Homo sapiens: one gene and its partner. The protein of the gene in region 2 purifies or fractionates together with the protein of the main gene of each other region. This does not show direct contact. Each region holds a gene or a part of one and is shown on either strand. Other genes may lie near its edges.

Evidence for each region.
Region 1: the proteins of SPO11 (region 2) and ATF1 purify together in Homo sapiens (co-immunoprecipitation; one large-scale study listed by IntAct). This does not show direct contact.

Annotation. Positions count from the first base shown.
Region 1 is NC_000012.12:50,808,891-50,812,727, forward strand, and holds part of ATF1 (cyclic AMP-dependent transcription factor ATF-1), read left to right. Parts: intron 1-565; coding exon 566-699; intron 700-2,730; exon of another isoform or gene 2,731-2,973; intron 2,974-3,837.
Region 2 is NC_000020.11:57,342,018-57,344,700, reverse strand, and holds the end of SPO11 (meiotic recombination protein SPO11), read right to left. Parts: intron 1,973-2,683; coding exon 1,861-1,972; exon of another isoform or gene 1,361-1,860; coding exon 1,241-1,360; 3' UTR 708-1,240; downstream 1-707. UniProt on the Homo sapiens protein: Component of a topoisomerase 6 complex specifically required for meiotic recombination. Together with TOP6BL, mediates DNA cleavage that forms the double-strand breaks (DSB) that initiate meiotic recombination.

The DNA of each region.
Region 1 (3,837 bases), on a different chromosome or scaffold from region 2:
CACCATGCCCAGCTAATTTTTGTATTTTTAGTAGAGACAGGGTTTCACCATATTGGCCAGCCTGGTCTCAAACTCCTGACCTTGTGATCCGCTGGTCTCGGCCTCCCAAAATGCTGGGATTACAGGTGTGAGCCACCATGACTGGCCCGATTATTATAACTTTTACCTGAGATTGAAAAAGTTTTAGGAATTTCTTTTTGTGGCCGGGCATGGTGGCACATGCCTGTAATCCCAGCACTTTGGGAAGAGGAGATGAGTGGATCACTTGAAGCCAGGAGATCAAGACCAGCCTGGCCAACATGGTGAAACCCCGTGTCTACTGAAAATACAAAAATTAGCTGGGTGTGGTGGCTCACACTTCTGGTCTCAGCTACTTGGGAGGCTGGGGCACAAGACTCTCTTAAGCCAGGGAAGCAGAGGTTGCAGTGAGCCATGATGGCGCCACTGTACTCCAGCCTGGGTGACAAAGCAAGATCTTGTCTCAAAAAAAAAAAAAAAAAAAAAATTATTTTTGTGAAGTCATTCACATTACCAATGTTTAATAGAGTTCTGGTTTTTTTTACAGAAAAATTTTGAAAGACTTATCTTCTGAAGATACACGGGGCAGAAAAGGAGACGGAGAAAATTCTGGAGTTTCTGCTGCTGTCACTTCTATGTCTGTTCCAACTCCCATCTATCAGACTAGCAGCGGACAGTACAGTATGTATAGGAATCAGTTTCCACATTATAAACACACAAAACCTGACTTTTCTGTAGAAAGAAATGGTGTTAGGAAAACTGTAATACTTTGATAGTGATGATTATTAAAGGATGTTTTCAGCCAGGAATAATGCGAAGTACTGTTTCAGCATTATTTACTCCTTATAACAACTTTGTGACATAGGCAATTATCAATGTATGAGGGAACTGAGACCTACAACATTAGATACTGTTTTGTTTTGTTTTGTTTTGTTTTGTTTTGAGACAGAGTCTCGCTCTTGTTGCCCAGGCCGGAGTGCAGTGGCACAATCTTGGCTCACTGCAACCTCTGCCTTCCCGATTCAAGTGATTCTCCTGCCTCAGCCTCCGGAGTAGCTGGGATTACAGGCGTGTGCCACCACGCCCGGCTAATTTTTGTATTTTTAGTAGAGAGGAGGTTTCACCATATTGGCCAGGCTGGTCTCGAACTTTGACCTCAGGTGATCCGTCCACCTTGGCCTCCCAAAGTGCTGGGATTATAGACATGAGCCACTGCGCCTGGCCTTATTTTGTTCATTCTTATATCTATGTAGTTCCGTACATAATTGCTGTATATTATATTAGTATAATTCCTTTCAGAACATTCCTGGCTTTTTTTTTTTTTTTTGAGGTGGAGTTTCGCTCTGTTGCCCAGATTAGAGTGCAGTGCCATGATCTCGGCTCACTGCAACTTCCACCTCCCGGGTTCAAGTGATTCTCCTGCCTCAGCCTCCCAAGTAGCTGGGATTACAGGCGTGTACCACTTCGCTTGGCTAATTTTTGCATTTTTAGTAGAGACGGGGTTTCACCATGTTGGCCAGGCTGGTCTCAAACTCCTCCTGACCTGAAGTGATTCACCCACCTTGGCCTCCCAAAGTGCTGGGATTACAGGCGTGAGCCACCACGCCTGGCCCCTGCCTATTCGTTAAAAATATTTATTGTTTGATTTATATACAGTAAAATTCACTCTTTGGGGAGTTTAAGTCTATGAGTTTTGACAAATGTGTAGAATAGTATAACACCGCCAATCAAGATTGAGTTCTGTCACCCTAACGAATTTACTTGTGCTGCCCATTTGTTATCTCCCCCTCCACTCCTAACATTAATCTGTTTCATTCAGTCTTGCCACAAAATATATGTCCCATCTGACCACCTCTTGCCGTCTCCAACCACCACCGCCTTGGTTTAGGCTCTCATCTTAATTACTGAAGTAGGCATCCAGTTGGTCATCTTGCTTCCATTCTTGCTCTAATAATCAGTTTTCCATACTGTGGCCAAAGTGATTTATTTAAGATGTCAACTAGATCACATCGCTCCTGCCCAAAATCCTCTAGTGACATTTTATCACACTTAGAATAAAATCCGGATCTTACAAGGCATTACATTTAGGATCTGCCTACCACTCTGACCTCATCTCCTGCCACTTGGTGGCATTCTGACCACCCCAGACTTCCTTACTGTACCTCAGACACACGAGCTTGTTTCTGCCTCAGGATCTCTGGAGTTGTCATTGCTCATGCCTGGCATGTTCTTCCCCCAGATCCTTATGTGGCTACTCTGCTTAAGTGTCACCTCCACAAAGAGACCACTCTCTTCAAATATGTGGCTCCTCCCTTTAGTTTCCCTTAACCTCCTATATTTTTCTTTATAGCATTTACATATAACTAAGTCAGTACATATTAGTTTAATTATAGATTGTATGTATGTAATTATAGATTAGCTTATTCATGATCTGTTTTCCCCACTAGAATATAAGATCCTTAAGGGAAAGAACCTTTTGTTTCATTCACAACTACATCCTTGACATATAGGACCTGGCATATAGTAGGCTTTCAGTTGTTTGTTATGAATTAATTAAATAATATATATATAGAATACCTCTTGAGAAACTGGGGGCCAGGCACTGTAGTTCATGTCCGTAATCTCAGTACGTTGAGAGGCTGAGGCTGGAGGATTGCTTGAAGCCACATTCAGGACCAGCCTTGGCAACATAGCAAGACTGTGTCTTCACAGAAAAATGAAGAAAAAAAAAAAAAAAAAAAGCCGGGCATCATGGCATGTGACTAGTCCCATCTACTCGGGAGGCTGAAATGGGATCTCTTGAGTCTGGGAGTTCGAAGTTACCGTGAACCGTGATCGTACCACCGCACTCCAGCCTGGGCAATAGAGCAAGACCAGTCTCAGAAAAAGAAGAAAGAAAGAAAGAAACTGGGAGCAGTGGTTGCAAGGAAAGAAGCTTGGGAGCAGAGATCAGAGGTAGTGGGGAGGTTCACATGTTATCACTGAAATAAGTGTAGTACAAACTAGTATTTAGGGCAACATAGGCCAATAGAACTTCGTATGATAATGGGAATGTTTATATCTGCATTGTCCCAGAATAGTAGCCACTAAACCATGTGTGACTGTTGAGTGCTTGAAATATGGCTGGTGGGACTGAGAAACTGAAATTTTAATTTTGTTTAATTTTAGTTAATTTAAATAGCCACATGGAGCTAATACCCTATCAGACAGCTCAGTTTTAGAATAAATACAGCACATTAACAGGTAAATACACATGTTAAGAACAGGAAGATATGTTGCAAAAATGAAAATATGTATTCACACATATTTAATATCAAAACATTTGCATCTACAGGTATGTATTTTGATATATTAGGTTGGTGTAAAAGAAATTGCAGTTTTCACCACTGAACATAATGGCAAAAGTATATAAGTCTGTATAAGCACAGGAAAATAATGGGAAGGATGTGCACCAAAAACAATAATTATCTCAGGATGGCGGTAAAAGGGGGAAAATGAAATAGAGATAGATAATGGGACCTTTAATTTTATTTATGTTGATACTTATATAAATAAATGTGTATGTGTATATATGTATATAATAATGTGTTGCAGGGAAGAAGATTGAAACTAATTGCTAATATAACTTCACAGCAAATCTCAGCCTGGCGTGTTGGATCACGCCTGTAATCCCTGCACTTTGGGAGGCCAAAGTGGGAGGATCACTTGATTTCAAGACCAGACTGGGCAATATAGGGAGACCCTATCTCTATAAAAAATTTAAAAATTAGCTGAGCATGTCCGTGTGCATCTATAGTTCCAGCTACTTGGGAGGCTGAG
Region 2 (2,683 bases):
GCCCAGCCTCACAGGTGTACCACCCGTGCAGTCACCCAGGACCCCAGGCTAAGAAGGGCCTGTGCTTGGTTTAATTCTCTGCTGCTATCATCTTGAAATTCTTAATAAAAAGGGATCCCACATTTACATTTTGCATTGAGACCCACATTTTCTTGAGGTAGGTAGTATTATTGTCCCCTGGTATTATTGTGGCTTTGGACAAATAGCATCCTCAGTGTTCTCACCTGAAAACTATGGTGTAGTTACCCAGTAATTACAAGGTCCTTGGGGGAATTAAATGAGATACTGAATCAGCAGTGATTGGCACATGTAAGTTCTCAGAAATGGTATATATTATTATTATTGTTACCATTTCTCTTTATAAAATAGCTAACCTAATATTACCGTGCTTCTATAAATTCTTATTCTTGCTTGCAAGCACAAGAAACTTTCAGTGCAGTTAAAGGTTTACTGAAAGTACAGAATAAAATCATAAAACTGACCTCTGGCAAAATTAAGATAGGTTTATGGAGGGAAAAGGTCACATATTTACTGTTGGAGAAGTACCTTATTAAAATCTGAGGCTTCTGTAGATCTTAAAACTGAAGAAGTTTTTTGTTCTATAGACAGACTAGAGAAGCATTCAAGACCTTCGAGAAACTTTTCAAATAAATAATATTATCAATAAAAAATAGGCTCAATACAAAATAAAGCAAAACACTGAAGACTACATCAATCCAAATATTTATTCATACTGAATTTTACTAATGTAACAAATGAATTAATGGAGTAAGACCCCTAAAGTATAAAGGCAAAGGAAAATGTAAGAAGAAACTACCGGACACCACAATTCATTTGCAACATCTCAAATTCAGATCATTATGATTTTTGTTACCAGTAAGATACTTTATGCGTTAACATTAGTTGTATCGTAGAAGGTAAATATTTTGTAGACTTTGATGACATGTATAAAATATTATTTTTTCAAAAATAATTTAAAGGTCAAAATAACATATTCTTTTATAATTTGCTTTAGAAGATAGGACAGAAATCTGTCTCTATAGAGGCAAGAATAAGGCCTTGCAAAGAAAATTGGAGTACAGCATTTGTTTTGACAAAAATATATAATTAACGGAAAGTTATTTTATTTCACTTTTACAGAATTAAGAATATAATATATGTTCTTTCCACAATAGTATTTGCCAATCAAAACAAAACTAATGAAAAGCCTCTGGCAATCAGAAGTTCTTCTGATTTATTTTTATATCCATCCTCCAAATTTTAATTTGTTAGGTAAGTACACTCTGGAAAGATAATCTGATGATAGGAAAGTCAAAGCTTGAATTTCTGCCTTCATTTTAGAGTCTGCCATTATTTCCATCTGTCAATAAAAGTAAAATGTACTCATACCAGAGTTCTTAGTTGCATTTCTGTCAATTCAACAAACTAGTAATCTAGAATTGCTTTATTCTCCAAAACCAGGGACAATAGTCTTAAGGGTCAGCCAGAATATTCCAGAGCTGCTACAGCTAAAAATATCTGGAGTGAGAGTACTCTGTATGCTGTCTTCAATAATTAGGGATAGTCTGAAATCTTTATGATTTCTTCTTCCTTTTTTTAATCCCACAAACTATGATACAGCCATCAAGAATGTGTATATAACCATGATAAGGATACAAACAGGCCAGCTCCATTCACTGATCTCATCTATTAGCATTCATATGACTCAATTTCAACAACTATTTACTGCCAAACAACACTTATGTTAGTCGTGTCATATAAAATTTCAAGAGGGATATTTTCAAAATACGATGTGAATAGCCACTACTAAAGTAAAAGACAATTAAACATGCAACACTTGAGTTGTAAAAGGAAACATACTTCTTTTCTCCAAAATGGTTGGCAGGTAACATAAGGTCTCCTCAGGATACTGTCAAGTTTCATTTGGTCCCTTTTTGTCAGTGGAATCAAACTATCTTTAGGTACATTTAATCTGGAAAAAAGTAGGTGAAAAAAATCAGTAAAAAAGTGTTTCTGTAACTTGAATGTCCTGTATTTTGCCTGTATTTATGGTACTACTTCAAGAAACTCAGAAATAAGAAAATTAGTACAGATCTACCTCTTACATCCAGGATTGAAGGGATCTGTCATGTCTTAGACCAGCAAGTTTTCAAGTTCATAGTGGAAGTTTGTGTTTCCACAGTAAGATTCTAAAGTTTTTGTTTTCCTTCATGTCACACTCGTGGGATGATGACAGGATGACAGGAAGACTGATATTGGTTATTAAACAAATGCCAATAGCACTACCATCAGGTATACAGATACCAGGGCAGCTTAATAATGTACATTAAGCCTCTCAGAGCTTCACACTCTTCTGGCAGTGAGCTCCAATATGCATGGCCAACGGCTGAGATTCACTGAGGGACTTTAGGTTCCATTGAGTATTTAATTCTTCATAATTCATTTGAAGATTCTGGGCCATGGAAGTTAGTGTCTCACTTTTATCATTTTACACACACACACACACACTTTTATCACTTTACACACACACAAACACATTCTTACCTATCTAGTTTTAAATTTGAAAAACGTGGAATATAACTTTATCATGGTATGTGTTTTAAAAATAGAACATGAGAGGTCCTGGATTTATGGTGTGGACTACCTTTTGAAGTCACAAATCCTAGATTTCCCAGGAGAGTCT